Linked DNA regions of Homo sapiens. The protein of the gene in region 6 purifies or fractionates together with the protein of the main gene of each other region. This does not show direct contact. Each region holds a gene or a part of one and is shown on either strand. Other genes may lie near its edges.

Evidence for each region.
Region 1: the proteins of DNASE1L1 (region 6) and RGL3 purify together in Homo sapiens (affinity purification with mass spectrometry; one large-scale study listed by BioGRID and IntAct). This does not show direct contact.
Region 2: the proteins of DNASE1L1 (region 6) and YBX3 fractionate together in Homo sapiens (co-fractionation; one large-scale study listed by BioGRID). This does not show direct contact.
Region 3: the proteins of DNASE1L1 (region 6) and ABHD12 purify together in Homo sapiens (affinity purification with mass spectrometry; one large-scale study listed by BioGRID and IntAct). This does not show direct contact.
Region 4: the proteins of DNASE1L1 (region 6) and CSPG4 purify together in Homo sapiens (affinity purification with mass spectrometry; one large-scale study listed by BioGRID and IntAct). This does not show direct contact.
Region 5: the proteins of DNASE1L1 (region 6) and CD109 purify together in Homo sapiens (co-immunoprecipitation; 2 studies listed by BioGRID and IntAct, with this or other methods). This does not show direct contact.
Region 7: the proteins of DNASE1L1 (region 6) and ADGRF1 purify together in Homo sapiens (affinity purification with mass spectrometry; one large-scale study listed by BioGRID and IntAct). This does not show direct contact.

The regions. Positions count from the first base shown.
Region 1 is NC_000019.10:11,395,315-11,398,814, forward strand, and holds part of RGL3 (ral guanine nucleotide dissociation stimulator-like 3), read right to left. Parts: intron 2,284-3,500; coding exon 2,131-2,283; intron 2,045-2,130; coding exon 1,930-2,044; intron 1-1,929.
Region 2 is NC_000012.12:10,713,324-10,716,823, reverse strand, and holds part of YBX3 (Y-box-binding protein 3), read left to right. Parts: intron 1-1,040; coding exon 1,041-1,130; intron 1,131-3,490; coding exon 3,491-3,500. UniProt on the Homo sapiens protein: Binds to the GM-CSF promoter. Seems to act as a repressor. Also binds to full-length mRNA and to short RNA sequences containing the consensus site 5'-UCCAUCA-3'. May have a role in translation repression.
Region 3 is NC_000020.11:25,321,336-25,324,835, forward strand, and holds part of ABHD12 (lysophosphatidylserine lipase ABHD12), read right to left. Parts: intron 2,096-3,500; coding exon 1,990-2,095; intron 1-1,989.
Region 4 is NC_000015.10:75,688,849-75,692,348, forward strand, and holds part of CSPG4 (chondroitin sulfate proteoglycan 4 precursor), read right to left. Parts: intron 1,965-3,500; coding exon 1-1,964. UniProt on the Homo sapiens protein: Proteoglycan playing a role in cell proliferation and migration which stimulates endothelial cells motility during microvascular morphogenesis. May also inhibit neurite outgrowth and growth cone collapse during axon regeneration.
Region 5 is NC_000006.12:73,765,703-73,769,202, reverse strand, and holds part of CD109 (CD109 antigen isoform 1 preproprotein), read right to left. Parts: intron 3,274-3,500; coding exon 3,049-3,273; intron 2,445-3,048; coding exon 2,343-2,444; intron 2,256-2,342; coding exon 2,193-2,255; intron 1,149-2,192; coding exon 972-1,148; intron 1-971. UniProt on the Homo sapiens protein: Modulates negatively TGFB1 signaling in keratinocytes.
Region 6 is NC_000023.11:154,403,496-154,406,254, reverse strand, and holds part of DNASE1L1 (deoxyribonuclease-1-like 1 precursor), read left to right. Parts: intron 1-599; 5' UTR 600-686; coding exon 687-821; intron 822-1,171; coding exon 1,172-1,260; intron 1,261-1,340; coding exon 1,341-1,427; intron 1,428-2,632; coding exon 2,633-2,733; intron 2,734-2,759.
Region 7 is NC_000006.12:47,004,333-47,007,832, forward strand, and holds part of ADGRF1 (adhesion G-protein coupled receptor F1 isoform 1 precursor), read right to left. Parts: intron 2,963-3,500; coding exon 2,921-2,962; intron 1,545-2,920; coding exon 1,485-1,544; intron 1-1,484. UniProt on the Homo sapiens protein: Adhesion G-protein coupled receptor (aGPCR) for N-docosahexaenoylethanolamine (synaptamide), an omega-3 fatty acid lipid highly enriched in the brain.

The DNA.
Region 1 (3,500 bases), on a different chromosome or scaffold from region 6:
CCACAAGCATCCTTTCCTAATATCCAGCCAACCTCATGCCATGTACTTCAGCGTGAATACGCTCAATCCCTTGCTTCTCCCTGTCAGACAGGACAATCTCATGCTTCCGCGGCTATCCATTTGCCTCTCTCCCGTCCCAAGTTCAGATAACTTCAGGGTCCCAGTGGTGAACAAACTTAGTTCTCACAAATCTAAGCCCAGATGCCCTTTAGTCTCCCATCCCATCAGGTTGAGCCTGAACAATCTCATGATGCTACAAACTTAAGATCAGACAAACTTCTACACTCCCTTCTCTCACTCGACCCTAGACAATCTATTTTTTCTTTTTTTTTGAGACGGAGTCTCACTCTGTCGCCAGGCTGGAGTGCAGTGGCGCAATCTTGGCTCACTGCAACCTTCACCTCCTGGGTTCAAGTGATTCTTCTGCCTCAGCCTCCTGAGTAGCTGGGACTATAGGCGCCTGCCACCATGCCTGGCTAATTTTTTGTATTTTTAGTAGAGACGAGGCTTCACCATGTTGGCCAGGATGGTCTCGATCTCTTGACTTCGTGATCCACCCGCCTCGGCCTCCCAAAGTGCTGGGATTACAGGCGTGAGCCACCATGCCCGGCCCCCTTTTTTTTTTTTAATTGAGACAGGGTCTTGCTCTGTCACCCAGGCTGGAGTGCAGTGGCGTGATCTCAGCTCGCTGCAGCCTCCACCTCCTAGGCTCAAGTGATCCTCCCACCTCAGCCTCCCCAGTAGTTGGAGTTGGGAATACAGGCACATGCCACCATGCTCAGCTAATCTCTCTCTCTCTCTCTCTCTCTCTCTCTCTCTCTCTATATATATATATATATATATATTTTTTTTTTTTTTTTTTTTTTTTTTTTGAGACAGAGTCTTGCTCAGTCGCCAGGCTGGAGTGCAGTGGTGCGATCTCGGCTCACTGCAACCTCCGCCTCCTGGGTTCAAGCGATTCTTCTGCCTCAGCCTCCCGAGTAGCTGAGACTACAGGCATGTGCCACCATGCCCAGCTAATTTTTTTGTATTTTTAGTAGAGACGGGGCTTCACCATGTTGGCCAGGCTGGTCTCGAACTCCTGACCTCAAGTGATCCACCCGCTTTGGCCTCCCAAAGTGCCGGGATTACAGGCGTTGAGCCACCGCACCCAGCCAATTTCTCTATTTTTTGTATAGATGGGGTCTCCTCATGTTGCCCAGGCTGGTCTCAAACTCCTGAGCTCAGACAATCCACCCACCTTGACCTCCCAAAGTGCTGGGATTACAGTTGTGAGCCACCATGCCCAGCCCATCCTACAAATTGAAGGTCAGAAACACTCCCTTCTGTCACTTGTCCGTGGACAGTCTTTTTTTTTTTTTTTTTTTTTAAACAGAGTCTCGCTCTGCTGCCCAGGCTGAAGTGCAGTGGTATGATCTCGGCTCACTGCAACCTCCGCCTCCCAGATTCAAGCAATTATTCTCCTGCCTCAGCCTCCTGAGTAGCTGGGACTACAGGAGTGTGCCACCACACCCGACTAATTTTTGTATGTTTCGTAGAGACGGGGTTTCACCACGTTGGTCAGCCTGGTCTCAAACTCCTGACCTCAAGTGATCCGCCCAGCTTGACCTCCCAAAGTGCTGGGATTACAGACATGAGCCACTGCGCCTGGCCGGACCCTGGACAATCTTATTGTCTTTTAAATTTTAGGAAGATGACCTTTGGTACCTCTCTCTCACACTGAGCCAAGACAATCTCATGACCCTACATCGTTGGGTTACAGGTATTTTATGTCCTCTTACCTCCACTGATTATCTTACCCCTACTCTCTGCCTGAAGCACCTCACAGCCCTGTGAACCCGGGTAACCTTGGGCTCCATCCTTGGGCGTGGTCAGTCTGCTCGCCTCCCCGCTGCCCCCTATCCTGAGCTCCAACCCATCCCTGCTCACCCCGGTCCCCAGGAAGGACTTGAAAGAGCTGATAGTCACAGGCCCAGGGCTGGGGCACATTGTGCTTCTGCAAGGCTCGCCGGACCACGCTGGGGGCTTTGTCCTGACTGGTCAGCTGGAAGAGAGGGGCGGGAGGTGAGGTGAGGGCCCCGGCCCCAAGGGCAGGGCAGCCTCCAGCAGACCCCCAGCCCAGCCCCTCACCAAGATGCTTCGATACAGGTTCCCGTGGTCATTGTCGATGCTGACGCGGATGACACGGGCCTCCGAGCTCTGCTGCGCCGGGAGGGGGATTCGAGGGCTGCCCAGAGGCAAAGCGAAGGGCCGGGGGCTGGGCAGGTCCAGGCTCAGGGGCAGCTGCAGGCAGTAAGGGGTGGAGGCTACAGCTTGGCCCATCTGCAGATGCTGAGGGCTAGAAAAGCACGAACACCCCAGCCACCACTGGTGCATTCAATAGCCCCACATTTAAAATCTCAAGAAAACATTGGCTGGGCGCAGTGGCTCATGCCTGTAATCTCAGCATTTTGGGAGGCCGAGGTGGGCGGATCACTTGAGGTCGGGAGTTCAAGACCAGCCTGGCCAACGTGGTGAAACTCCGTCTCTACTAAAAATACAAAAATTAGCAGGGCCTGGTGGCGCATGCCTGTAATCCCAGCTACTTGGGAGGCCGAGGCAGGAGAATCACTTGAACTTGAGAGGCAGAGGTTGCAGTGAGCCAAGATCACGCTACTGCACTCCAGCCTGCGTGACAGAGCAAGACTCCATCTCAAAAATAAATAAATAAATAATAAAATAAAATAAAATCTCAAGAAAACATACTACTACCCCCTACACATGCAGAGCCTGGGACATGCAACTGGAGTACATTCACAAGCCTGCATATACACCACCCTACCATATACAGACTTTGGTTACCTGTTATAGAAACAGACATGAACAGTGTCCATATACACACAACCCATGCTCATACACAAGAAATCCTGTGTACATACATATGCTGACAGCGGTTATACACCCACAGCCCATGCCAATGAACAACCCCACACATGATCTCATGAATACTCAGGCCCACATTTCCTCTTCTGGTACACAGATTCTTTTCTTTTTCTTTTCTTTTTTTTTTGAGACAGAGTCTTGCTCTGTCACCCAGGCTGGAATGCAGTGGTGCCATCTCAGCTCACTGCAACCTCTGCCTCCCAGGTTCAAGCAATTCTCATGCCTCACCCTCCCAAGTAGCTGGGATTACAGGCCTGTGCCACTATGCCCAGCTAATGTTTTTATTTTTAGTAGAGACGGGGTTTCACCATGTTGGCTAGGCTGGTCTCAAATTCCTGGCCTCAAGTGATCCACTGGCCTCGGCCTCCCAAAGTGCTGGGATTACAGGCATGAGCTACCATGCCCAGCCTTCATTTCCTTCATTTCCTTTTCTTTTTTTGTTTTTCTTTTAGAGGGAGCCTCGCTCTGTCACCAGGCTGGATGGAGTGCAGTGGCACCATCTCAGCTCACTGCAACCTCCGTCTCCTGGGTTCAAGTGATTCTCCTGCCTCAGCCTCCCAAGTAGCTGGGACTACAGG
Region 2 (3,500 bases), on a different chromosome or scaffold from region 6:
GTTTTTGGAATGGCTGAATGTTCATGCTGCGTGCCTGTCCTGAACTGCCTTTTTTCCTCTATGGGTGAGGTCTCTGCTCTGTTGGCTCACTATTTCTTTTCCCTCCTACTCAGAGTTAGGGGACGGGCTGGATTACACATGCTTAATCGCTTTATAAAATAAGGTTGACCTAGTTCCATAGAAACGCAAGCCCCTTTAACTGTTTAGAGATACCAGCCAAAGAAATGGAAATGCATGGCAGGAATTATTTTCTGCCTTCATTGATGGAACAAGAGAGAGCAGCACCTATTCATAAGCAGATATTTAGGTGTAGATGTTTAATGAAGAATAGCATCTTCACTAACCTTTTAATGTATTATCAGGGAATGTAGGATTTGTTGACATGAATTGTGTGATGGGAGAAAAGTTGAATAAATATCATATAGGTAGAGTACAGGGATATGAATTCCCCCTCCTCCACTTCCCCCATCATCCCTGGGGCTGTTACGGTTGTGACTTCAGATAAATCACTTTAACTGTTAGCCTCGTGTTAACTCATCTGCAAAATGGGAGGAGAGGGGGGAGGCCAGATTATTACTAATACGTTCTGATTCTTGAGATAATTTTGTTTACTCGTCAGAAATATTTATCCCCTTGGCATTTTAATTTGTTTTTCTTTATCACTGCCTCCTTTCCTCCTCCGGAGATTCAGAGAATCTCTGAAGCTTAATGGTTTGAGGTAATTAATACATCTGATATGATCAGGTGATCAGCCTGTAACAGTAGTGTGTAGTCACTGCACACACTGCAGTTATAGAAAAAACATGTTCTGTTTAATCCACCTGTCAAGATGAATAGCACAAATCAAGGAAGTAATGTGGAATATAGTTTTATAGTGCTTTCTTGTTGTTGTGTTGGAGATCCAACTTAGTGGGAGAATGGTGGAAAAATAAGAATCGGTCAACAGTTTCTTCAAGTTCACTCTGGTGTACTTGAAAGCAGTGAAATCTGTGGCCAATATTGAAATATACATCGAATAAAATTTTCTGTTCTCTTTCCAGACTGCCATCAAGAAGAATAACCCACGGAAATATCTGCGCAGTGTAGGAGATGGAGAAACTGTAGAGTTTGATGTGGTTGAAGGAGAGAAGGTGAGAGGAAATTGTGGTTGGGTATCAAAGTGCTGGCACATAGTACTGTTGCACAATAAATTATCTATCAGCCCCTTATGAATTGACATGACTTTGGAATTTTTGTACAATAGCAGGAAGTGACTTTTAAACAGAATTTTTTTTTTTTTTAAGATGGGGTCTCCCTCTTGCCCAGGCTGGAGTGCAGTGGCGCGATCTTGGTTCACTGCAACTTCCACCATCCAGGTTCAAGTGATTCCTCTGCCTCAGTCTCCCTAATAGCTGGGATTACAGGCATCCACCACCACGCCCGGCTAATTTTTGTATTTTTAGTAGAGACGGGGTTTCACCATGTTGGCCAGGCTGGTCTTGAAACTCCTGACCTTAGGTGATCCACCTGTGTCAGCCTCCCAAAGTACTGGGATTACAGGTGTGAGCCACCACACCCAGCTAGCAGAAATATTTTTGACATTGTCATTATAAACATTCTGCAATAAAGATACTTTAATTTCTTATTTAATAAATGATCAACTCTGATTATGGAAAGAAAAGCTGATTTCTCAATTTAAAAATAATTTATATTTTTATACCAAAGGTATGTATTTCGAAATGCAGATTAAAATTTAACTATCTTATGTATTAACAATATATTAAAAGTGCTTTGCAGCTGGGCGTGGTGGCCCACACCTGTAATCCCAGTACTTTGGGAGGCTGAGGCAGGCGGATCTCCTGAGGTCAGGAGTTCAAGACCAGCCTGGCCAACATGGTGAAACCCGTCTCTACTAAAATTACAAAAATATCTGAGTGTGGTCGCACTCCTGTAATTCCGGCTACTCAGGAGGCTGAGGCAGGAGAATCGTTTGAACCTGGGAGGTGGAGTTTGCAGTGAACTGAGACATTGCACTCCAGCCTGGGGGACAGAGCAAGATTCCGTTTTTTAAAAAAAAAAAAAGAAAAGAAAAACTGCTTTGGGGCAAAAGATTTCTTTTATCAAAGTAAAGTTTTCAGGCTGACTTGTAAGCACTTCTACCTACAAATAATACATGGTAAAGAATATTTTAATCCCAATAAAAGGAGATCGAAATTGAATATTAATCATTTTGTTTTCTGTTTGGCTTGGATTTTGGGAAGCTGAAGGTACCCTGATAGACCCTAAGATAGCTTCGTCCGGGTGAACTGAATCCAAGAAGTTAAGGGATTTTCCTGAAGACTAGCTACAGAAGTTTTTAATACTGTTATATATTTAATTCCGTGTCTGTAATGCCCTTTATGCTTTGTGTTTAGTCTGTTATAGATACTAGTAAAACAATATTGAGTAAGATTAAAAACACGCTAAAACTACATATAGCACAACTGCCATGGCAGCTAATCATGGCAGCTGAATTATAAATTAACTGGATGAGAGGTTAACTCCCTGTATGTGCTCCTCCCATATACACATATACCATTCCATAGGTCATGTTCCTAATGGCTCTCAAACCATTGTGTTTTAAAAGAAAAACAATTTATTTCATTGGATGCAGAAATTTAAGTGATTATCTTTACCGGTGTGATCCCCAGGGTATCTTGTAAGTCTTTTAGATTTTCAAATCACTCACCAGCACCTGCCACTCTGTGAGGATCTCTGATATCCCATCCAATTTTTAAAAAATTGTTTTGGGTTGATTTTTCTTCTGTATGTTTTCAGAACTCAGGGTTTTACAAAGTGATGTAGGGTGTGAAATACACTCTCTGAAATCTTCTTGGTCTACATTTTTTTAACATTTTTGAAACATTTTCCATTTGTCCATATGAGAATAAGAATTCTAAATCTGTTTCAAGGATAATAGGAAAGGCTAAAGAAGGACTACATGTGTGGAGAATATTATTCATCAAAGACCCTTTCTTCTTGTTGCTGCCAAAATAGGAGAAGTTTCACTCAGTACCTTTGTGCTGGACAGAGAATCATATGAGCCCATGAATAGGGATTGTCCTCTTGGTACCTCCTAGACTAACATAGGTTTCAACACATTCTAGGAAAATAACAGTATCTCAAGTCTTTCCCATTGAGGAATATTCTTCCTGGTCTAGCATTGCTTCTACTTTGACAGTTGTATATTTGCTAATTTATGTTCTTTAAAGAGGTTACACATTGCTTTTGCGATTGACATTACTAGACAAGAAAGCAAAACTCAGGTTGTATGAGCAAACAAGCCATATATGTTTAAATCAGGATGTGAAGTACCTTGCTCACTTTGTTTAAAACCTAGATCTGTTTTTAAAATCACAGTGGGAATTCTTAGTATGTTCTGCCAGTCTTATACTCTAGCAGTCCAAGGCTGTTTTTTGAGTTAGTGTATATTCTTTTTAATTTTGAGGCCATCTTTTTATTTTCTTCTCAGGGTGCAGAAG
Region 3 (3,500 bases), on a different chromosome or scaffold from region 6:
CAGACAGGCGATGGCCAGGCATGGCCAGGAATGGCCCCCAGGCTCCACTCTAGGCCTTGAGGCCCTCCTTTCAGGAAGCTGGTGGGAGGGTCTGATGAAGCGATGGTGGGGGCAGTTGGTGAGCTGGGCCTGCTGCTGCCTGAGGGCCCAATGTCATTGTGACTGCCTAGGGCATGAGAGTGGGCAGCAGCCGCACTCACCAACACGCACCCACCAACACACAGCAACACACAGCGTGGCTGTCACTGCCTTGACACTTGCCACTGACATCACTAAACAAAACCTTTTCTGGTAGCTGATAATGTATGCAGGAGTTGTTAGTACTTCCAGCCTAAGTCTCACCACCATAAACACCCTCCTGCAATAGGACAGACTCATGTTAACCAAGAAGAGGGCTGACCAAGTCCCACTCAGCAGCTCTGTGCAAAACAAGTCATGCTTCAGACAGAAACCTGAGGAGTCCCACAGTCACACATTGGTCAGTAAATGCTAGATTAAATCAAATCAGGAAGTGACAAAAGACTTTAATCCCAGCACCAACTACTAAGAACAAAAATCTCCCTTCTTGTTTTATGTTCTTTACCAAGGACCACTGTTAGAAATGTCTGAATGTTCTCTCATCCACACTGGGAAGCTACTCACAGCATTTCATTTAGAAGCTTCTCACATACACAGTGGTTTTCTGAGACAGTGGAAAGCGACGTTATGGCTACTGAAAAATAAATTCAGCTAGATAAAAGGGCTGTGATTCAGGCTCACTTCTCAGAGAAAAACGGAAATGCTACAGTGAGGTTGGTCAATTTTAATTCAGCTGTTCAGAAGCACCACTTGTGTACAGAAGAAAACATTAAAATGTATTCCAAGGAGACACAGAGAAGTCACAAGGCTTATGTCCAGTGTAAACTTATGGCTTAAAAAAGTAAATACTCAGAAGACAGCCAACACCATCATCATCAGCTGGTGCGAAGCTATATGTGAAAAGAAATCAAGCTGTTTTCAGTATCTAGATGTTCACCTCTTGGAAAAGATATATATATATATATATATTTTTTTTTTTTTTTGAGACAAGAGTCTCGCTCTGTTGCCCAGGCTGGAGTGCAGTGGCATAATCTCAGCTCACTGCAGCCTCTGCCTCCTGCGTTCAAGCAATTCTCTTGCCTCAAACTCCCGGGTAGCTGGGACTACAGGCGCGTGCCACCATGCCCAGCTAATTTTTGTATTTTTTTTTCAGTAGAGACGGGGTTTCACCATGTTGTTTAGGGTGGTCTCGAACTCCTGATCTCAAGTGATCCACCCGTCTCGGCCTCCCAAAGTGCTGGGATTACAGGCGTGAGCCACCGCGCCTGGATGGAAGATATATTCAAACCAGTGTTTGTGATTCTTCCCTTATATTCTCTTTTTTTTGGACACAGAGTCTTGCTCTGTCATCCAGGCTGGAGTGCAGTGGCGTGAACTCAGCTCACTGCAACTTCTGCCTCCTGGAGTCAAGTGATCCTCCTGCCTCAGCCTCCCAAGTAGCTGGGATTACAGGTGTGCACCACCATGCCTGGCTAATTTTTGTATTTTTAGTAGAGATGGGGTTTCACCTTGTCGCCAAGGCTGGTCTCAAACTCCTGGACTCAAGTGATCCACTTGCCTCAGCCTCCCAAAGTGCTGGGATTACAGGTGTGAGCCACTGTGCCGGCCACTTATATCCTGTTTCTAGCTTCTTTGTTTGCTTTTCGTTTTTCCTAGAAACAAGTCTCTCTAAAAATAATAATCTGTTCACAAAGCCTTTGCTGTTTTGAAAGGCTGGGAATAGAGTTTAAAGCCATTGAATCCCTCAACATTAGGATGGATCAAATGTACTGAGATCTTTCCTTTAGGAAAGGAAGAGGTGAAGATAAAAATGAACAACATTTCAGAGGCCAATGTCAAAGACAGCACCAGCTCAGTCATGTAGGGTCCTTTCCTGCTGCTGGAGGGGCTGCAGAGCTCACTGGCACTCACCAGACTCCAATGGTCACGTCTTCCTCTGGCTGCAGGTAGTAGTTACACGTGTGATTCAAACCTTGATCCTGTGGTTTTTTCAAATCAATGAAATAGGGAACTCTTACTGTAGGAAATAAAGAGATGGAAATTAGGATTACTGGTGGATGAATACACACATGTACACACAAACATGCATACTCACACACGTGCACAGATATGCATCCACACGTGCACACACACACATGCACACCCACATGCACACACTGCAGAAGCTCTCAGAAAGCACCAAGTCCTTTTCCTGTGCAATCTTACAATGGTGCCAGACCTGCAGGCCCAGCCTCAGGCAGGGTATGGGCTGAGGCCAGCCAGCATGGGCAGGGACAGAGACTGCAGTGAGGGCAAGGTCTGTGTAGAGACTGGAACGCTAAGGTCTAAGGTCATTCTAGGTGTGAGAAGATGCAAATGAGGGAAGGAAAGATCCCCAACAGGTCTGAAGGATGGGCCAGCCAGGAGGGAGGCTGGGGAGGCTGAGCCTGCGAATAACTCAGGTGCCTGGTGGAGTGGGAAGGACAGCAGGAAAGGGGATGGCGCTGCAGGACCTGATGACCAACGGAACGTTGGGTGGCAAACAAGGTAAAGGGGATTCCAAAGTTTCCAGGACTGCTGCCTAACACAGAAAAGACAGCAGAAGGTGAGGTGTGGGGCAGCGAGGGGGATGAATCCATAGGACCCATGCAGAGCAGAATGAAGTCAGTGCAATGGCCCAGCAGAAGTCCTGCATCTACCAGGTCATCTGCCAGCAGGACAGCGAGTGAATTAACCAGCACCTCACACTGTGGAAGACCATGGGGCCCTTAGACCTGGAGGAACCTCCAGGACCTGCGGGCAGATGAGAGGAGCAAGGTGACTGTGGGTGCGGGTGCGGTAGCCCCACTTTGTTATTGTAAAAACATGCAAATGAAACACGACCTCCACATGTGGCTGGGAGGATATACAGAAAGACAGAAGCCAGGCTGCTCACACAGCTTCAAAGTGTGTGTGTGGGGAGAATGGGGGCAATTTTTTCCTTATATACCATTGTAGTCTTACTGCTTTTGGTGAACACAACTTTAAAATAAGTTTAACTGAAAAACAAAAAATTTAAAATAAACGCATGAACCCTGAGGTGGGATTTGCCTGCTTTATAAAATGGCAACTCCCAAAAGAGGCAATGACAGAGAGCAGTGTGGGCCTGGCTTCCCTCTGGTGGGTCCTGCCCCCGGGGAAGCTCTGCTGCTGACAGCTGTCTCTGGTGAAGACAGGGGTTGCGTGACTCCCATGTCCATGTGGCACATTGCACATCTAGCCTCACTTCCTCAAATGTCACCAGGCTGGACTCACGAGGACATGGGGACATACACACTCCTTCCCAGAAACTCCCTGAGCGTCTGTCCCAGACCATGTGGGGAGACAGTTCCTACCACCAGGGCTGCTGTTCATACCCCACCTTCTTACTCCATCTCTTTCCCAGGAAGCAGATACATCTTCAA
Region 4 (3,500 bases), on a different chromosome or scaffold from region 6:
CCCTGCTCCACATCCCGCTGGTGGAACGCCTGTGTGGCCCACCACTCAGCACCCTCCACCCCACCTGCCCCCTGCTTCTGCAGCTCCCCAAACTGCAGGGCCCCAGTGACGCGGAACAGCACGCTCACATCCTGCCCCACGGCATTGGTCTCCACCGACAGGTTGGCGGGCAAGATGGGCATGGCAGAGCCTTGGGCCAGTCGCAACCCTGTGCTGCGGTGGATCTGTATGGCCGGCCGGATGGCCACCACCTTCAGCGTGGCCGGGGGGCTGGCCTGCAGTCCATCGCTGACCCGGAACGTCAAGTCCTGTGCAGGACCACCGCGGTGGACATAGACTAGGCTGCCGGCCTCCAACTCCCGGCAGGAGAACTCGGTCGCCGGCTCCCCAGGCTGGTCTCGGCGCTCCACGGGGAGGCCAGAGGAGGTGCCAAGGACCTGGAAGGTGAGGCCCTCACAGGCAGAGTCCGGGTCATAGGCCTGGAAAACCTCAGGCCCCAGCGGCTTCTGCGTGTGTTCCAGGATCACCATGAGGCTGCCATGTGGGAAGATGATGTGGGGTGGGTCATTGACAGGGTTGACCTGGATGGGCAGGAGGTATGTTTGGCCCCTCCGAAGGCATGAGGGCATGGGCACCCGAGCCGTCACCGACACCTCCAGCACCAGCTGGTCGGAGGTGTCCTCAGAGCCATCGTGGATGAAGCGGGCCTTGCGGTTCACCACGTCCAGGAGGGTGAACATTTTTCGTGCCTGGGCTCCCGGGATGTCCAGCTCGAGCTCGCCATGGCGTGCCCCTCGGGTCACGCTGAACAGCACCTGGGATTTGCGCAGCTCAGCCTCCATCAGGTCCAGCGTGGGCTGCACATGCCTCCACTCAAGCCAGGCTGTGCCCCCCTCGGCCACCACCAGTGGGCTGATAGTCAGCAGCTGGGTGAAATTGGCAAAGACAGGAGGCAGCCCTGGCTCAGGCACGCATGGCTCAGGCAGCTCCATGGCTGGCCAAGCCTCAGGGGCCAGGGTGGAGAAAGCTTCATAATGTCCATAGGCATCGTCCTCATACTCCTCCTCCTCCAGCCTGCAGCCGGCTGCCATGTTGCGCGTCAGCAAAGCTTCCCGCAGCCCCCGCCTCTGGCCATTGACACTGAGGTCTTCCATGCAGCCCAGCAGGGAGGCATTGGTGGCCTCTGGTGTCAGGCCCAGGCGGTGTTCCTGGAGGTGACGAGAGGCCTCTGCATCCAGCCCCCCGAGAAGGAGACTGCCCCGTGGCTCCAGGTAGCTGAGGACTCCTCGGTTCGAAGTATGCGTAGGGTACTGGTCCACGGAGATTTCCAGCCGGTGAGCATTGATGTGGACACTGACCTCATGGGGCTGCCCATCGGCCACAGGCACACTGTTGTGGAGCAATACGGTACCCTGGCCCTTCTCCACCACGGCCCGCAGGTGGCCCTCAAATATGTCCACATAGATGAAGTCCCCACGCCGGCCCCCTGCCTGGAAGGCCAAGGGTGCCTGCCGGCTCTGTGTGGTGAGTGTAAACTCTAGGGTTCCTTCGTCCTGAGTGCCCCAGGCAGGGAAGGCAGCCAGAGAGTGGGGCCCAGAGAAGCCCAGGGCCACATCATCACTGGCAGAAAACTCTTCAGCACAGCCCTCATGCACATCGGGGGTCAGAGGCCGGAGGAGGCTGCGGCCATTGAGGGTGGCTGCATGGAGGCAACCCCTCAGGGGTCGGCTGGTTCCCCTCAGGTAGGGCAGGCCAAGGGTCCCAGTGCCCCCAACAAAGAGCCCATAGGGGACCTCTAGGGGGGCTCCTGGGACTGCTGAGGAGGCGTTCAGAAACCCATCGACTGACAACGTGGCCCAGCCCTCTACGACAGTCAGCACCACAGTGTGGGGGATGGAGTCACTCAGCAGCGTCTCTGCTGGAGTCTGCAGCCTCAGCTCCTCCTGGCCCAGAACAAGTCTGACCTGAAGAGAGATGGGGAGTGGGAGATAGTGGACAGCACTTTGGATCCATCATTTCCCTTATAAAAGCATAGAGCCGGGCGTGATTGCAGTGGTGGCTCATGCCTGTAATCCTAGCACTTTGGGAGGCCAAGGCAGGCGGATCACCTGAGGTTAGGAGTTTGAGACCAGCCTGGCCAACATGGAGAAACCCTGTCTCTACTAAAAACACAAAATTAGCTGGGCATGGTGGCGCATGCCTGTAATCCCAGCTACTTTGGAGGCTGTGGCAGGAGAATTGCTTGAACTCGGGAGGTGGAGGTTGCAGTGAGCTGAGATCATGCCATTGCACTCCAGCCTGGGCAGCAAGAGCGAAACTCTGTCTCAAAAAACAAACAAAAAAAAAGCATAGTGAGTTCCCCACACTTGGGGCCCCAGAGTGGAAAACCTAGGACAAGAGCCTCTGGTGCCACTCCTCTTGCCGTCCTGCCATCTCTTTATTCATCCTCCAAACACTCACCAAAGGAAACTCTGGGCCAGGGCTGGATGGGCTCTGGGGACCCTGATATGAATCAGATGTGGTCCTCGCCCACAAGGAACTGACATACAGCAAGATGCTCTCCTAGAAATCCAACCTGTGTTTTTAAATTCTTCCCCTCTTTCCTTGAGTGAGAGGTGCCAGAAATATTGTCTTGGAATCTGGATTTCAACTTTGGAATAATGGGTAACTGGGAATCCCTTGATCAGTCCCCTTCAACAGAGCAAAGTTTCTTGGGGTCATTGAAGGCAGCCAGGCTCACTGTTCAGGAATAGGCTAATTTTTAAATTAAAATTTAAATACTCTGTGTTCTGAAAAAAAGCTCCCTGACCTGGGGTGGAAGGAGATCTTGGGGAGAGATGAAGGACATAGTTCTGTCTCCATGACATTGACAGCAGAAATGGCTCTGGTACGGTGCTCCCAGATGGTAGAATGGGAGGTGGCAGAGTATGGTAACTGCAGAACCAGGGCACTAAGAACTATAATTTTGGAGTCCTGGTATGGAGCATCTCTGTAGGGGTGTGGCATCATTGTACCTACAGAACTGGACAGCCATCAGCACCAGCCTGCACCACGCTGGTGTTTAACAGTGAAAGCAGCAGACTGACCAAGCCCTAGTCCTCTCCCCATGGGGTGTGGAAGGAGATGGCTGCCCCAAATTTGTTTTTTTTTGAGACGGAGTTTGGTTCTTGTTGCCCAGGCTGAAGTGCAATGGTGCGGTCTCGGCTCACTGCAACCTCCTTCTCCTGGGTTCAAGTGATTCTCTTGCCTCAGCCTCCTGAGTAGCTGGGATTACAGGCATGTGTCACCATGCCCGGCTAATTTTTTTGTATTTTTATTAGAGACACGGTTTCACCATGTTGGCCAGGCTGGTCTCGAACTCCTGACCTCAGGTGATCCACCCGCCTCAGCCTCCCAAAGTGCTGGGATTACAGGCATGAGCCACCGCGTCCGGTTATTTTTTTCTTTTAAAAATAGAGATGGGGACTCATTGTGTGGCTTAGGCCAGACTTGAACTCCTA
Region 5 (3,500 bases), on a different chromosome or scaffold from region 6:
AAACTAAAGTACAGGCCTGGCGCAGTGGCTCATGTCTGTAATCCCGGCACCTTGAGAGGCTGAGGCAGGTGGATCTCCTGAGCCCAGGAGTTAGAGACCAACCTGAGCAACATGGCAAAACCCTCTCTCTACCGAAAATACAAAAATTAGCCAGTCTTATAACCTAGTCTCAAAAAATAAATAAATACAAATTTTAAAAAAGAAAGTACAGATCACTACTGTTACTTCTCAAATATTTTAACAAATAAAGGAAAAAGAAATAGAAGAACCATACTCTGCAAATCACTATTTAAAGGAATAATTTTTTACATAAGAGGATGGAGAGGGCAGCAGTTGTTAGTGACAGCAATGGCTCATTCTTATATACATGAGATGATGCAATCAGGTTTCTTTTCAGAGCTGGGGTCCAAAGGGATTTCCTACTCAAGCTGGTCACATTAGGCTATAAAAGGCACTGGTGCACTTGGAGACCAGACTCCACACAGATCCTCACATGCAGGGTAATCAAGCTCATTGAAAAGTTGCCCTGGGCTAGTTTCCAGCTAATTAAATAGATTAATGAAAGCCCAGCTCTGCTTCTACGTATTATCCTAGATGGCCTCACTCCTTCCCACACCCTTTATATCACTGCAATATCAACACCACACGAATTCTATGTTACCACTGGAATTTCACTCCTGAGCAATATTAATTCAACCATTTGAAAAATTCTGAAACAGCTTCATGATCTGAGTTAAAGTCTTAAAGACCAGAACCATAGTTTACAAATAGACTATCAATCCCCAATAACTCCACAAGTGAAAATATATATGTAATGCTAAATATTGAAAAGTTTAACCATAGTTCTAGAAATAGAATAATATAAATTTCTAACCAGTTTGGCTTAATGATACTTTTCTAAAGAAATATTACATTTCTCAGACTTCACTAATATAAAGTTTTCTTTTAAACATCATTACCTTAAATCTTACCTTATTTTTAAAAACAAGCTGAACAGGAATTTTTAGAACATCACTTATAATTTCCCCATCATCTTCAATATAATACACAATTACACAGGCTTTTGGAGTCCAAGAATTTTCTGGTGTTAAAGAGAACATTGTTGAATTTTGTTTTCCTACAGCCACCAACTGTCCCCTGGATACTACCTGAAAAGAACAGTAGATGGGTTTAATTTATTGCCAAACCTAGTAGGATCTCATCTGAAGCTACATTAATCATAATTGTATGCATACACACAAATTCTTGAATTAAACCAGCTTCAAAGTCTTTTGGAATGCAGGAAAACCTCTCTGACAAACACAGAGAGCATACACTGAGAAAAAGAAAATGGTAAGATTAAAGTAATACTGATTGGAGCAACAGTAGCTTCATAGTCAAGAATCTATTTTTGATTGCAAGGAATACAGGGCACCATTGGGAAAGCTGAATTAGCAAAATTACATGGTCATGGATAGCACTTTTTATTTTCTTTTTCATTTTTCTTACATTGTATAATTTTCTATAATGAATATATATTGCTTATCAAATAGAAATTTAAATTTTAAACATAAAACAAGGTTTAGTTATCTATTTTAAATTGGAAATGCAAACATAGGTGAAGAAATAAAAAAGGTTTTTTATTTGATTGCAATGTTAAAACGACAGGCTAAAAAGGTATGAGGCTGAGTTATAAAAATTAATAAGTTTAGTGTAGATATAAGGTAGACACCATTTAAGATGATTCTCAACCTAAATGCCCATCAAAGGTGGACTGGATAAAGAAAACGTGGTGCACATATACTACGGAATACTATGCAGCTATAAAAAAGAATAAAATCATGTCCTTTGCAGGAAGATGGATGGAGCTGGAGGCCACTATCCTTAGCAAACTAATGCAGGAACAGAAAACCAAATACCACATATTCTCACTTATAAGTGCACACTAAATGATGAGAACACATGGACACATAGAGGGGAACAACCGACACTGGGTCCTATGGGAGGGTGGAGGGTAGGAGGAGGGAGAGGATCAGGAAAAATAACTAATGGGTACTAGGATTAATACCTGGGTGATGAAATAATCTGTACAACAAACCCCCATGACATGAGTTTAGCTATATAACAAACCTGCACATGTACCCCAGAACTTAAAAGTGAATAAAAAGATGATTCTATAATAGATCATAAATTTAGATTCTATAAGAGATTACCATATAGCTTAACTCCTTCAATCGTTTGTTGCCACTAACCACCAACTCAAAAGGCGATCCCACCTAGAAAAAAACCTTAATTAATATGTACATATCAAAAGCAAGATAGTCCAATTATATTGTAATTCTCAAGTGAATTGTAAGCATTACCTTTATATTTTCATCTCTTGTTTTTAGTTGGATGTATGTCTTACTAGGAGACTTAAACAGACTATGAACTGCCATGCTACTTTTACTACCAAGGAAATAGGCCTATAATAAAAGAAAAAGGAGCTGTAAATGTTCATCTTTAGTAACACCTTGAGAAAAGATGTTACCTGCTGAACAATTATTAAAGACCAAATTCATCTTCACTTTTTTTTAATGCAAGAAAAATACATTCACCAGACATTGGATTTTCATCATTTTATAGCTTATACTGTAAAGAAACTGATAGCTTTAAAACACAGGAAAGGAATATATATATATATATATACACACACACATATACATATACATATATATGTGTGTATATATATATATGTATATATATTTATCTTTCATTTCAATTCCTGCCAAAATAAAATTTCAAATGACTGACCTCAAACACTAGACTGGGGATTTGAGGAAATTCTCCATCATATCTTCACATTGCTATATTTTACTGTGCTCTTCAAAATGAACTTACAAGGAAAAATTTAGTCTAACCTTCAGCCACTGTCATTAAATTACTTTTACCACTCTCCTCCATTTTGTGAAACAGAAACATGTGTCCACTTCCTATGTACTTTCAGTTCTGACAGGTTGAGTGCCTACCACAAGATTACAACTGTAATGGTGTTGTTGCAGTGACACAATGATGGGAAACAGACGGCACCTTCAACTGTAGCTCACTGGAATCCTCCAGGATTGGGAATTCAATCTTAAAAGTTCCACTTTGGGGGACAGTATAATTTATTTTCTGAACAGCTTCCATTTTCTGATTTCCACTGTTAGATCCGCTCCAGTACTCAGTATAGTTTCTCTGTGTCACTGTTATGACTACATTATTTCTTCTTTCTTCAAGAGTCAGTTGGTTGCCATCAGCACGAGTTACCTTCACCTAATGGTCAAAACAAAACATCTTAAAAACACAAAGGATTTAAGTACGATTAAATACAGTTTCCGTCTGTAGTATTCTCATGAAATTGAACTCTCAAAAATTATTGGTAGCACTATAATATCCAGATTCAGTGGCCTCTCTCTAGGAGGCATCCAACATCACTGATTACTCCCTTGTTAATATTATGGATTCCCTTAACTTCCGCGGCTCCAAAATAACCCCCTTCA
Region 6 (2,759 bases):
CTCACGCCTGTAATCCCAGCATTTTGGGAGGCCGAGGCGGGCAGATCACGAGGTCAGGAGATCAAGACCATTCTGGCTAACATGGTGAAACCCCATCTCTACTAAAAATACAAAAAATTAGCCGGGCGTGTGGCAGGCACCTGTAGTCCCAGCTACTCGGGAGGCTGAGGCAGGAGAATGGCGTGAACCCAGGAGGCGGAGCTTGCAGTGAGCCGCGTTTGCGCCACTGCACTCCAGCCTGGGCGACAGAGTGAGACTCCGTCTCAAAAAAAAAAAAAAAATTCTGACATATGCTCCAACATGAATGACCCTTGAGGACATTTTGCTCAGTGAAATGAGCCAGTCACAAAAAGACAAATACTGTAGGATTTCACTTTTTTTTGAGACGGAGTCTTATTGTCGCCCAGGCTGGAGTGCAGTGGTGCGATCTTGGCTTGATCTTCACAGAGCAAGACTCTGTCTCAAAAACAATTTTTTTTTTTGGAGACAGAGTCTCACTCTGTCACCCAGGCTGGAGTGCAGTGGTATGATCTCGGGAGGTCACTGGGAGGCTGGTGCTGGGCAGCAGCTAGTGCCACTTTCTCTGTTCCATATTTCAGCGCTTCCAGAGCCAGAACTGAGCCCAGTGAGAGCGCACCCTGGGGCAGCCTGGATTCCTGGGGTGTCCCCGGCAGCCACACACAGCCATGCACTACCCAACTGCACTCCTCTTCCTCATCCTGGCCAATGGGGCCCAGGCCTTTCGCATCTGCGCCTTCAATGCCCAGCGGCTGACACTGGCCAAGGTGGCCAGGGAGCAGGTGATGGACACCTTAGTTCGGGTAAGTTCATCACTTCAGGGAAGCCGTGCCCCTAACCACCATGAGCCAAAGCCCCCATCCCTGCCTGACCAGGGGTATGTTCTAGAGAAGAGGGGAGAAGAAGAGGTGTGGCACGGAGATGCAGCGCAGGCGCTTGCCTGCTGCTGGCCTCAGTCTCCTCCTCTGTGAAACAGGTGACATGTGGGTGGGATGAGTCTTTTCCTGGGGCATTTCCAGTCCCACTGCTTTCTGTGGGCTGCAGTCAGTGAGCCTTAACACTCTGGGCCACAACAGTGCCAGTCCCCTGGGCCCACTGCCTCCTCTCAGGGCAGTTGGCACTGAGTCAGGCTGGCCTTCCTGATGTCCCACAGATACTGGCTCGCTGTGACATCATGGTGCTGCAGGAGGTGGTGGACTCTTCCGGCAGCGCCATCCCGCTCCTGCTTCGAGAACTCAATCGGTGAGGAAGATTCTGTGGGTCTAATCAGGGGCACACCCAGAGGCTTGAGGCCCTGACCCCGCCTCCCCTTTTCTTGGCAGATTTGATGGCTCTGGGCCCTACAGCACCCTGAGCAGCCCCCAGCTGGGGCGCAGCACCTACATGGAGACGTATGTGTACTTCTATCGGTGAGCACGGAGCTGGCAGCGCAGCAGGGTGGGGGGCGGTCCTTGGCCCTAATGTGAGGTAGGCTCATTAGTCCCCGGGGCCACAGGCCCCCCATCCTGGGACAGCCTCACCTGCTTTGCATGCTTTCTCTTCTCAACACCTTTTATTCTGGGCTCTTCCCATCCTCGACCCCCGCCAGAGTGTCCATAGAGCAGGAGGCCTTCCTTCTATAAGCACAAATGTGGGGTCCCTCCTCCTCTCTCCTGTGGGAGCTGCTGGGGCTCAGGGTGTGGCTGGCCCCCTCTATGAAAGTGGCCAGCAAGGGCTGCAGCTCCTGGGAAGAGGCTCCGTGGGGACCACTTATGGGCCTTGGGTAGACCCGATCTTCTAAGTCCCTGGGAGGACAGGCTGGCAGGGAGCCCTTTGGAGTCAGGATCCAGAGGGCAAGGGAGGCTGCAGGGAAGGAGAACTGATTCTCTATATAAATAAAATGATATGACATCTGGTATGCGCTCCAAAATTACTGGGTAGGCAGGGTACAGTGGCTCATGCCTGTAATCCCAACGCTTTGGGAGGCTGAAGCAGCAGGATCACTTGAACCCAAGAGTTCAAGGCTGCAGTGAGCTATGATTGTGCCAGTGCACTGCAGCCTGAGCAACAGAGTGAGACCATGTCTCAAAAAAAAAAAAAAAAAAAAAAAGAATGACATCAAAGTGTCCAAATGTCAAAATGTACTATACCCAGTCCGTGGAATATTATTCAGCCAGAAAGAGGAATGAAGCACAGACGTGCCACAGCATATGGACGAACGCAGAAAACATTGATGAGCTGATTTCATTCATATGAAATATCCAGAATAGGCAAATGTACAAGATAGAGAACAGATTAATGGTTGCAGGGGCTGGGGGGAGGGGAGAATGGAGAGTAACTGGTAATGGATGTTATGTTTTTATTAGGAGTAATGGATACCAATGTTTTAAAATTGATTGTAGAAATAGTTGCACAGCCTTATGAATGTACAAAAGAACCGTGTTGTATACTTGAAGCAGGTGAATTTTATGGCATATGAATTATGCCTGATTTTTGAAAGTTCTAGAGACAGGTTGGGAGGGCTGTGCCCACATTGCCGCTGTTAGTGGAGGGCCCCTCCCTGAGCGCCGTTTGGCACTTGCAAGCCAAAATCAAAGACGTGGGGCCACTGCTGCCCATCCCTTTGTCCTCCCAGGTCACACAAAACACAGGTCCTGAGTTCCTACGTGTACAACGATGAGGATGACGTCTTTGCCCGGGAGCCATTTGTGGCCCAGTTCTCTTTGCCCAGCAATGGTAGGAAGGGAAGGGTGGGCTTGGTA
Region 7 (3,500 bases), on a different chromosome or scaffold from region 6:
TATATTTATTTTAAAACAAATGAGCCACCTAACCAGCAACAAAATCTCATTTTTGTCACCTAATTTGGAAATGAAATTGGGGAGAAGGTACAAATACAGACACTGCCTTCTCAGAAGTGTCAGTGCTTGATGTTAGAAACAGAGAGAAACTGTTAGGCATTCTTGCTTTTGCTTTTGTTTTATTTTACTTGGGAGTATTTTTCCTTCTTTGGTTTTCAAAGGAGAAAAATTTTGACTTTCTGCTTTGCAGGGTGGGGAGTGTCCCGTCTCATTATATTCACTAAAGGTTTTATCTTTTATGTAGTCACATGTGCTGTAATTTTCTCCTTTTCTTAAGTGTAGGTAATGACTCATTAGTTTCACAACTTCTGGTTCGAGTGATTTTTAGTTCTTCCAGACATAAAATCTAAATCCCAGAATGTGAGAACTTCTGCTTTGAATAACTAGTCCAACATTTATTTTCTACAGTTGAGAAAATTAAAACTTAGAGACGAAGTGACTTTCCTAAGATCACACAGTCAATTGGTTACGGAGTCAGAAATACAAGGGCAGGACTGGTCCACCTGCTCATGGGCCAGTGCTCCGTAATTCACAGCAGTGCTGTCTACTGAAAAATGCAGACCAAGGAAGACTTTTTAATGCCAGAGGAAAATTTCCTTATTGATTTTTATTTCAAAAAGTTATATTGTCACTTGTAAAAATCTCTCAATACCCATATAGGTTTGGATGCAGTTAAGTCAGTTGACTTTTATAAAATAAAGAAATTCTCTGCTTTAGAACTCCTTCTGAAAGGCCCTCAGTGCCTCGCTGAAAAACAAAAGTCTAAATAATATTGAAAACACAAAATATGTGTTCAAGCACTTTTGTTTCTAAATATACTATCCCCATATGGATTATACTTTTATGGCAAAGAATGATACAGAAATCCTCCATTTCCTTAAAAACTTGTGGGTTTGTAGACTTAAGAGCTAAGATTGCAAGTAACAGAATCAGTGATAGCAGCCTAAAAAAAGAAAATTATTAATACATAATACTTTTATGTATTAGAAGTTAACCAAATTTAAAGACAAGAATTTAACCAAGATCTCTCATTTTATCTGTCTAGAGAAGGAAAAATGGTTTACAGAAGGTTCAGAAAGTCAGATGAAGAAAAGGGCCTTGCTAGTTCTAAATATTGATAAGCTAGTCAGACTAAAGTAAATGCCATTGTTCAAAAGTATTCACTCACAAGCACCCACAGACTTCCATACTTGAGCATCCTTGTAAGTTTCCATGACTTCACAGTCACTCATTTAATCACTCATTCACTCAACAACTCTTTACTACCACTCATGTGCCAGGCTCCATGTCAGATACCAGGAATATAATGGTGAAAGAAATTCAAGGGGTTTACACAGAAGTTGGCTTGCAGCAAGACTGTATAAAGAGAAGAATGCAAAACTGGAACTTCATGTATTGGATTCATGGCAGTAGGAGATAATTACCTTTTCTGTTTGCTTCCAAGAACTTAAGGCAGACAACTTGTTGAACAGAAGTTGTCGCAGCTATAAGGGCAACAAAGAAATATTGAGGAGATACACATACAATCATACACAGACAAATCAAGAACAACTGCAGGTTGAAATGGTTATTTAATAGTATTATTTCCTAGAAGCAGTTAGTAGACCATGAATGGATATCTGGTAGAAAGATTATTTTCTTCATCTCTTTACCTATAAACAAAACTAGAGTTCAACAAAGAACAACAGTACCAAATGCCATACTCATTCCAATTTTAGACATTAGTAGTTGGCAATAATTGCTAAACTGAAGTGTATCTTTGAAGTGAAGAGTTTCCTAACCACATGAATGGTAAGACAAGGCAATTACTTTTAGTACAATTAAGAACAGCAAATTGCTTCTTTGTAGATAGCAGTTTGTTCATGTGCAAAATTGTTCCTATAATTAGCAACAATTTTGCTAATTATAAAAATTTTTTATTTTCTTATTAAAACAAAGACTATACATCTATTAGCTTATGGCCTTCACCTCTCCCAACAGAATTGTTTAATGCTTGGGTTTATGAAACAAGTATATTTAAAAATTTTTTTCTATTATCTTTCATTTAAACTTACTGTTCTTCACTGGGAATTTTATTTAATGTGAGAGGCTATTTATTTATTTATTTTTCTTCAACAGTATACTTTACTTTTTAAAATATTTTTATTTCCATAGGTTATTGGGGAACAAGTGGTGTTTGGTTACATGAGTAAGTTCTTTAGTGGTGATTTGTGAGATTCTGATGCACCCATCACCTGAGCAGTATATACTGCACCCAATTTGTAGTCTTTTATCCCTCACCCCCTTCCCACCCTTTTCCCCTGAGTCCCCAAAGTCCATTGTGTCATTTTTATGTCTTTGCATCCTCAAAGCTTATCACCCACTTATGAGTGAAAATATACAATGCTTGGTTTTCCATTCCTGAATTACTTCACTTAGAATAATAGTCTGTGAGAGGCTATTAACACTTACTGTTTAAAACTCTACAAGTATAGAAGTAGATATATATTTCAGCATATTCTAAATAAATGGGTAGAATAATTGAAAGAACAAAAGAGAATTCACCTGTTAGCAAAGCAATTTTGCTATGGAATTACTGCCATACCATAATTTAAATTAGAAAAGTTAAAGGTAAAAAGAATTCCCCTTTTTTCCGACAACGTTTACATTACATGTTTGATTAGTTCTGCAAGCTTTATCAGCAGTGACTGTTTAGTTCCTTTGTTTTCTGACTGAGCCTGACTTCTCTAAAAGCACAGAATTTTATTACAAAAGTACCAATAGTCCCACCTCTTATTATATGAATAAAGGCCTCAGAACAAAGGGGAGGGGGCCTAAGATGTCTAGGCTAGGGGTTAATGAGAGAAATAAATACACATACCTTACTGTCCAAGAGTATTCCAAAGCATAAGATAAAAAATCCCTTTAAAAAGAAAGGAATAAATCACATGTATTGTATTTTTCTTTTCCAAAAAAGAAAGCATTTATATGTAACACTATTCAATCACCCCACATTGAAACTGTTTTCTTGTCTGTCTCCTTAAGAGACTGTAGTCTCCTTGAAAGCAAGAACACCATGTGGCCTCCACAAGTGCATGGCACTATGCAAAGCACTCAAAAAAATGTTTTGTTGATGTCTAAATAAGCAAATGACCAAGCGAATGAAGTTTTGCATGTGGAGCTTCATTCTCCCCATCGTACCATCCCAACCCAAACAAATAGCATCCTTTTTTGTCTGTATCTTAGTCTTTCTTTAGACCAGGCATTTGATGTCTAAGCATCTATGACGGCAGCAGGCACAGAGATCCAATCCTATGGCCAAGTGGAGGGATTTGACCTATATCAGCACCCTTTCCTTCCAGTGCAGGTCTTGGGGAACCCTTGGTAAATGTTTTGGTGGATCTTGAATTCCTTCTCTCAGGCATAGCTCCTTCAGTTGGTGCTTGTTCAGACAGTGTATC